2 linked regions of the Homo sapiens genome follow. The protein of the gene in region 1 interacts with the protein of each later gene in a pairwise test. Each region holds a gene or a part of one and is shown on either strand. Other genes may lie near its edges.

What was found.
Region 2: the proteins of IDH3A (region 1) and MBNL1 interact in a two-hybrid assay, tested with the Homo sapiens proteins (one large-scale study listed by BioGRID and IntAct).

Annotation. Positions count from the first base shown.
Region 1 is NC_000015.10:78,169,246-78,172,620, forward strand, and holds the end of IDH3A (isocitrate dehydrogenase [NAD] subunit alpha, mitochondrial precursor), read left to right. Parts: 3' UTR 1-2,198; coding exon of another isoform or gene 2,199-2,284; 3' UTR 2,285-2,700; downstream 2,701-3,375. Other genes in the region: long-chain-fatty-acid--CoA ligase ACSBG1, read right to left, coding at 2,237-2,284. UniProt on the Homo sapiens protein: Catalytic subunit of the enzyme which catalyzes the decarboxylation of isocitrate (ICT) into alpha-ketoglutarate.
Region 2 is NC_000003.12:152,460,634-152,463,642, forward strand, and holds part of MBNL1 (muscleblind-like protein 1), read left to right. Parts: intron 1-1,751; 3' UTR 1,752-3,009. UniProt on the Homo sapiens protein: Mediates pre-mRNA alternative splicing regulation. Acts either as activator or repressor of splicing on specific pre-mRNA targets. Inhibits cardiac troponin-T (TNNT2) pre-mRNA exon inclusion but induces insulin receptor (IR) pre-mRNA exon inclusion in muscle.

The sequences.
Region 1 (3,375 bases):
TTTGTAAACTCTGAGTGGACTGTATCATTTGCTATTCTAAACCATTTTACACTTAAGTTAAAATAGTTTCTCTTCAGCTGTAAATAACAGGATACAGAATTAACAAGAGAAAATGTCTAACTTTTTAAGAAAAACCTTATTTTCTTCGGTTTTTGAAAAACATAATGGAAATAAAACAGGATATTGACATAATAGCACAAAATGACACTCTTCTAAAACTAAATGGGCACAAGAGAATTTTCCTGGGAAAGTTCACATCAAAAAGAGTGAATGTGGTATATTTCTAAATGATATGGAAAATAGAGACAGATTTGTCCTTTACAGAAATTACTGAGTGTGAATAAAAACTTCAGATCCAAGAAATATATAATGAGAGATATAATTTTTGTTAATAAGACAAAGGTAATATATTGGATACAAAGACACAAATGTATTGTGTGTTCAATTATTTTGTTGTCTTGAGATTTAATATTCTTTCCAAGAGCTTTTAATGAAGCAGAGAGCTAGTACTTCATTTTCACTGGATACATTTTCAGCATCATGAGTTGTCACAGCCTCTGAGCCCCTGATCTGAAGCCAGAAGGGCTGAGTGTATTGTAAACTTATTCTTGCATGTTGCTGTCTGGGAATGGACCACACTACAGCAGGTAGTTCTGGGGGCGATACTGCCGAAAGGCCCGAACACATGTATTTTGGCTGCAATTGAGGAACTTGGGATGCTATTAATTTTGTATTTCAGCAACTGCCCCTTCTCCTATCCCAAAGCACCAATTACTGCCCTCTGCCTCAGCAGTACCAGTATAAGATGACATTCCAAAGACTGGAGGCAACTCAGCCTGAGTTAATTCACAAAATTATGCCATGCTGGGGCTTGAGCTTGAGCTTGGGCTTAGGCTTGGGCTCAGCTTTTGACCCTCAGGCATCTCCTTTCCCTTCCTGTCTTCCTCTCCCTTCTCCTCTGCTGCAGCATGATTTTCTTAATCTTCAGACACTCACTATTTTCATGAACAGTTACCCTCTGTCCCCACAACCAAAGACAACTCATGGCCTCCTTTGGCCCTTGTGTAACATTGCAAACCTGTGGCTTTGCAAAATGTACCCAGGTCACAAGGGGATTTTTTTTTTTTTAGCAATGATATCCCTGTCTGGGTCACTTTTTAAGCTTGTAACCGCCCCCCCAGACTTATAATCTTAAATGTATTTTCCTTTGTTTAAGCTGCTGCTTCCTCTGTTTCATTGGATTGTGCCAGTTATCAGTGGCTCTTGGGTTCAAAGTAATAAAGAATTCCAAAACTGAGATGTTTGCTTTCTCTACCTGTTTCCTGTTCAGATGCCTTCGGTCATTTTGGCTCAGCTTGCTACTGAGAATGGCTGCTTCCCGTATTCAGAATGGAAGTGGGGTGGTCTGGTGGCGACAGGCTAACGTAGAGCTGGCTGCTTTTATGAGAATGCGCCACTTGACCCCATCCTGCACCTTTGTTTATTCCAGGGCACTAATGGTCACTCGCATGCCCGCTGTGCACAGTCCTGTGAGTTAAATGCCCACTACTCTCTGCACTGGTCCCACCTGCTCAATTGACAAAAAAAATCAGGTCCTTGTTGACAGTTCTGTTAAAAGGTTTAATATTCAAATTATACATTAAATAGAATCAAACAGGCAGCAGCAGTTTTATTAAGCATCAAGTCAGTTGGCATGTGGGTGGCGGAGTGCCTGGTAATGGAATAATAGGGTCGGCGATGCCCGCCAAGATTCCAGAGTAAGTCAGGTCGCTAGGTGAGTTGTGACTGATTGCTTTTCCTGCAGCGCACGTGAGCAGTATCAGCCATCTCTCTCCTACCCGCTCCACAGCCTACTGCTGGCTGTCCTGTATGTGAGCTAGCAGCTTTTTAATCTACCTGGAACTAAGGCCAAAAATTATCAGCCCTTTCGTTCTGGAAGGAGAGCTGATCTCATTTGTCACCTGAACAAAAAGCAATACTTAAACTGAATTAAAACTACCCACACGTGAAGCTTCTTGGAATTGTCAGCTATTGTTGGCGTAAGACCTGGTAAATGTAGAGCCAGTGCTGTGCCCTGACCTGGAGATCTAACAGACTTGGCAGAAATGCCTGTGCCCAGACTGAAGAGACCTGGGGCTCAGGAAGAGGCTCGGAACGCCTGCCCTCTATTCTATAGAAACTGCAGGCATAGGCCCTGATTACATTTTTTGCTCTTGGTAAAAGGAGTCAATGATACCTTTGTACTTCTCCAAAACTGTGAGCCGTTTCAGTTTCATCGTGGGACCTAAAAGGGAAATGAGAAGAAATGAGTGAGGCCCAGGCTCTGAGAACTCTGAGAATGTGTGTGGTAAAGACTCACACTCAGTCCTATATATAACTCAGGAATTAAGCCAGATAATCAGGACCGTCAGTAGCCAGCCTCCAAGACAGTGATCGCTCCTGGTATTCATATGGCTTGTGTGTAGTCTCCTGTGTTATACCACTGGTTGTGGCCAGTGGAGTATAGATGAAGGGTTGGTATGTCACCTCTGAGAATAGGTTATAAAAGATCAGTTTCTTTTATACACATAGGAAAGTAGTGTAAGCTACATCTGCCTTTTCCTTGACCTGTACCCAGTTTTGACCCTCAGTCCATTTTCTCTGAAATGGATTTATTTGTTCCATCTCTTGAATGAATAAATTGTTGAAGCAATTAAAAAATAGACTAGGTTTCTGTCTTGGGCTTTCTCTTGGACCATTCTTCCTGGGCAAGCCGGCTGCCATGTTGTGAGGATACACAGCCCATGAGAGGCCCACTGGCCACACACGGATGTTTCTGGCCAGCAGACAGCAAGGAGCTGAGGCCTGCCGACAGCCACGTAAGTGAGCGCGGAGGTGAGCCTCAGCTGCAAGTGACTGCACCCAGCTCACATTGACTGTAATCCCGTGAGACCCAAGCCAGAACCACTCAGCTAAGCTGTTCCTGGATTCTTGACCCATAGAAATGTGGATAATAAATGTTTACTGCTTTAGGCTGCTACATTTTTGGGGTCATTTGTTACACAGCAATGTATTAGATAGCTAGTACACATCATCTCTGCATTTTTGTGAACGTTTATACAACGTTGGACATTATGCTTTGATGGTTGTGATGGGGGTAGGGGAAGCCCAGGTTATGGGGAGCCTCTGCCATGGTCTTTATGAGAGGTCTTCCCCTAATTACTTTTCTTAACCTTGATTTATCCCCCAAAAGCAAGTTTGAAAGAGCTCTGATTTGAGGTCCTGGGTAGCTTAAAGTGCCTAACTCACTCTTGACTGTGTAACTGGAAACTTTCTGTGTTAAAGTCATTATATTAACTGCTTAGTGAAGACATCTTCTGTCTCTCTGACCTTGCG
Region 2 (3,009 bases), on another chromosome or scaffold:
ACCACTGTCTTAAATACTTAAAAAGGTGTCCATTTTTCATCCATAGGAATATGTTTTGTCCAGTATGCATGCATTCAAGTTATAACATGTGCTCAGATGCTTGTTATTTATTTTTATATTTAGAAAGAGACATTACATTTAAAACTGAAATTGGTTAAGATGGGTGACCATTCTTTGTTGCTTCCTTTATTTATTTATTAACATATTTACAAATGAGTTTTTGGTGCTACTTTGTGTTAGTTACCATGGCAAGGAGATAAAGGTAAATAGATAATAAGATAAAGATGTAAGGAATTTCAGGATAATATAGTAAAATAAGAGAGGTTTGAAGAAATTTCTCTTAGAGCAAAGATGAAGGAGCAGCTGTTCCCAACAGGATCCGTAAACAAATGAATGTGGACAATGAAGGTGTTGTTCTAAAGAGAATGGAGGTGTAAAGGCCTTGTAAAAGAAGGACAGTGTGCCAAGTCAGGAAACGATGATGGCTGAGAACCAACTCAGAAACCCTTGTGATGTTAATCTGTAGCAAAGCTGGACAAAGTCAAAGCCCATGCAGGAGAACAGGCAGAATTCAATAGCCATTTAAGAAAGAAATGAGAGGCTCAACTGGAGAAGTACTGCCAAAGATATGCTGCAATCGTGAATTATTAAAATTGATTTTTGTCTATTTCATAAGTTTTCTCAAAGCAGTTCTGATAAAAAGGTTCAGATTCTGAACAATAGCCACATTTGTAGAAGAAGAGGCATTACTTTGCAGTGTTGTAGGTTTAGAAGAAGAGGTTTTTTTGACATGCCAGAAAAATCTGTTTCAAGCTCTTATAGTCAATTAGGTGTGTTTGGTATGTATATATTTAACTAAATTCTGTTTCTTAGCAATAATCCAGGTTGAAAAAAATTTCTAAAAATAATTAGCAAACCAGTAGTTTTGTCTGTATTGAAGCTAAGCTTTTAATGTTCTGTTCATTTAACAAATGATTGCTCATCTTCATGAGGAGTTGCAACATTTAAACTGGTTTTTGAGTCACTAGATTATGATTTCTTTCATTTTCAAGGTTGTATTGTGAAGCATACTTTTAATATATGTAAATATTCGCTGCTGAGAACAAATTTCATGTAAAAACTGGAACTGTTAATCCACAAGTACATTGTAATGTCTATTACAGCTTAATTCATGAGTAATAATTCTGTAATTCAAAAAGAATGATTTTTATTTTCTTAGTTTTAGGTGAAAAAAGTTCAACAAACTGAATTACCCAAAGCCATCACTTAAAGTATCATTCTTTTTTTTTCAAACATGCATTATGCTAATCAAGCACCCAAAAAGAATAAATCTTGTTTAATAGAACATATTACATGAATTTTAATTTTGTAGACCAGACCTTTACTCTTGAAACCTTATTAAACTTCAGAAAAGAAGTTTAAATTTTGCCCTACAACAATTGTGCTAAAAAAGAGCTCTGTATATTAGGCCCCCTGATTCTGCAAATGTATTTTATACTTTTAGTTTAGGATTGGTAAATTTTGGAGCACATTCTACAGTTTTATTAAATTGTACGTGTTATTTCATTCGTGTAGAGATGATAGACAAATTTTGATCTGTCTACTCTTGTAAAATGGTTTTTGTTTTTATATGAAGATATAATGTAAATATACTGGTTAATCAAAAAGAAAATTTTCATATTAAATGTATATTAGAAACTGCTTTTAGATATTACCTGTTCTAACAAAGCTTATCTCTTTTTCCCTTGTAGATCATGCTAAAGAGGAAAGGACAGTGTGCTTGGTTAGAGTAAAGGACGAGGTCATTAGCCATATTGTATATATCGTCAAGCAACACACACAAAAGTTCCTCAGCCACAAGACATCCACATATTGCATGTTAACCAGAAGAAAAGACAACATTTTCCGGAAATCCACTGCACACTGTTGCCTATACACTTTGTACATTTAATTGATATTTGTGCTGAGGTGATATTCCTGTCTAAAAGAACAACATTGTCTTTCTTTTCTAGCACAGAGTTATGCATTCAAAGATGCATACCTAGTTAGTTTCCTATATATTCATGCCATCTTGAAAAGACAGACTATGGTGTAACCATGATTCTATTATGTATTGGTACGTCTGTAGACCAAGATATAATTTTTTAAAAATAAGTTTATTTCTTTCAAGGTTTACAAATAACAAAGGTGCACCTTGTATTTAAAATTGCCATTATAGATGAGAGCGTGCATGCACAGTCATTTTTGTTTAAGAGTAATATTTTTAATGTAATAGATTGTAAGACGTGGTGAGGGAGGGATCTGACAGAGATGAATGTGCCAAGCAAAACCACAACTGTGTATATTTTAAAGCACATCATGGCTTTAAGTACCATGTTGTTAAGGATTCTCATGAAGTGCCATAGACTGTACATCAAATTAGAGTATTATTTCTTCAGTGTTATTGTTTTCAGAGCCACATTTTGTTGCATATTTGCTAGTACTAATCAGTCAAAGGGCACCATTCTTTTTTTTTTTTTTTGAAACCAAAGCTGTCTCAGAAATGGCCAATTTAACTTTACAGTAACAATAGACAGCACAACACAAACTCTCTCAATACAGATAAACTCACACATACTGGAGATATATATATAATAGATATATATAAAATTATTTTAATGCATTGTAGTGTAATATTTATGCATACTATACTGTATAACATGTTATTCAAAAGGGATTGCCATTTCTGAGACACAGTAACAAAAAAATGAGGAAATTATTTTGCTTCTATTTATAGCCTCTGTCAAAAGTCAAAAGACTATAAATGCTTTGCAAAAATGGTTTCACGTTTGCTTAAATGCTTCATCACAGTCACATTCAAAATAGTGACTCTAAACAAAGAAGAAAGCAGCACTGTCATCAGATGCATGATAAACCAAAATATGAAAATGGGAAATGTTTAATTAACCTAGTAATTGGGTGGGTTAAGTACATGGGTGAATTTTATATGTGATTTTTGTTTTGTTTTGT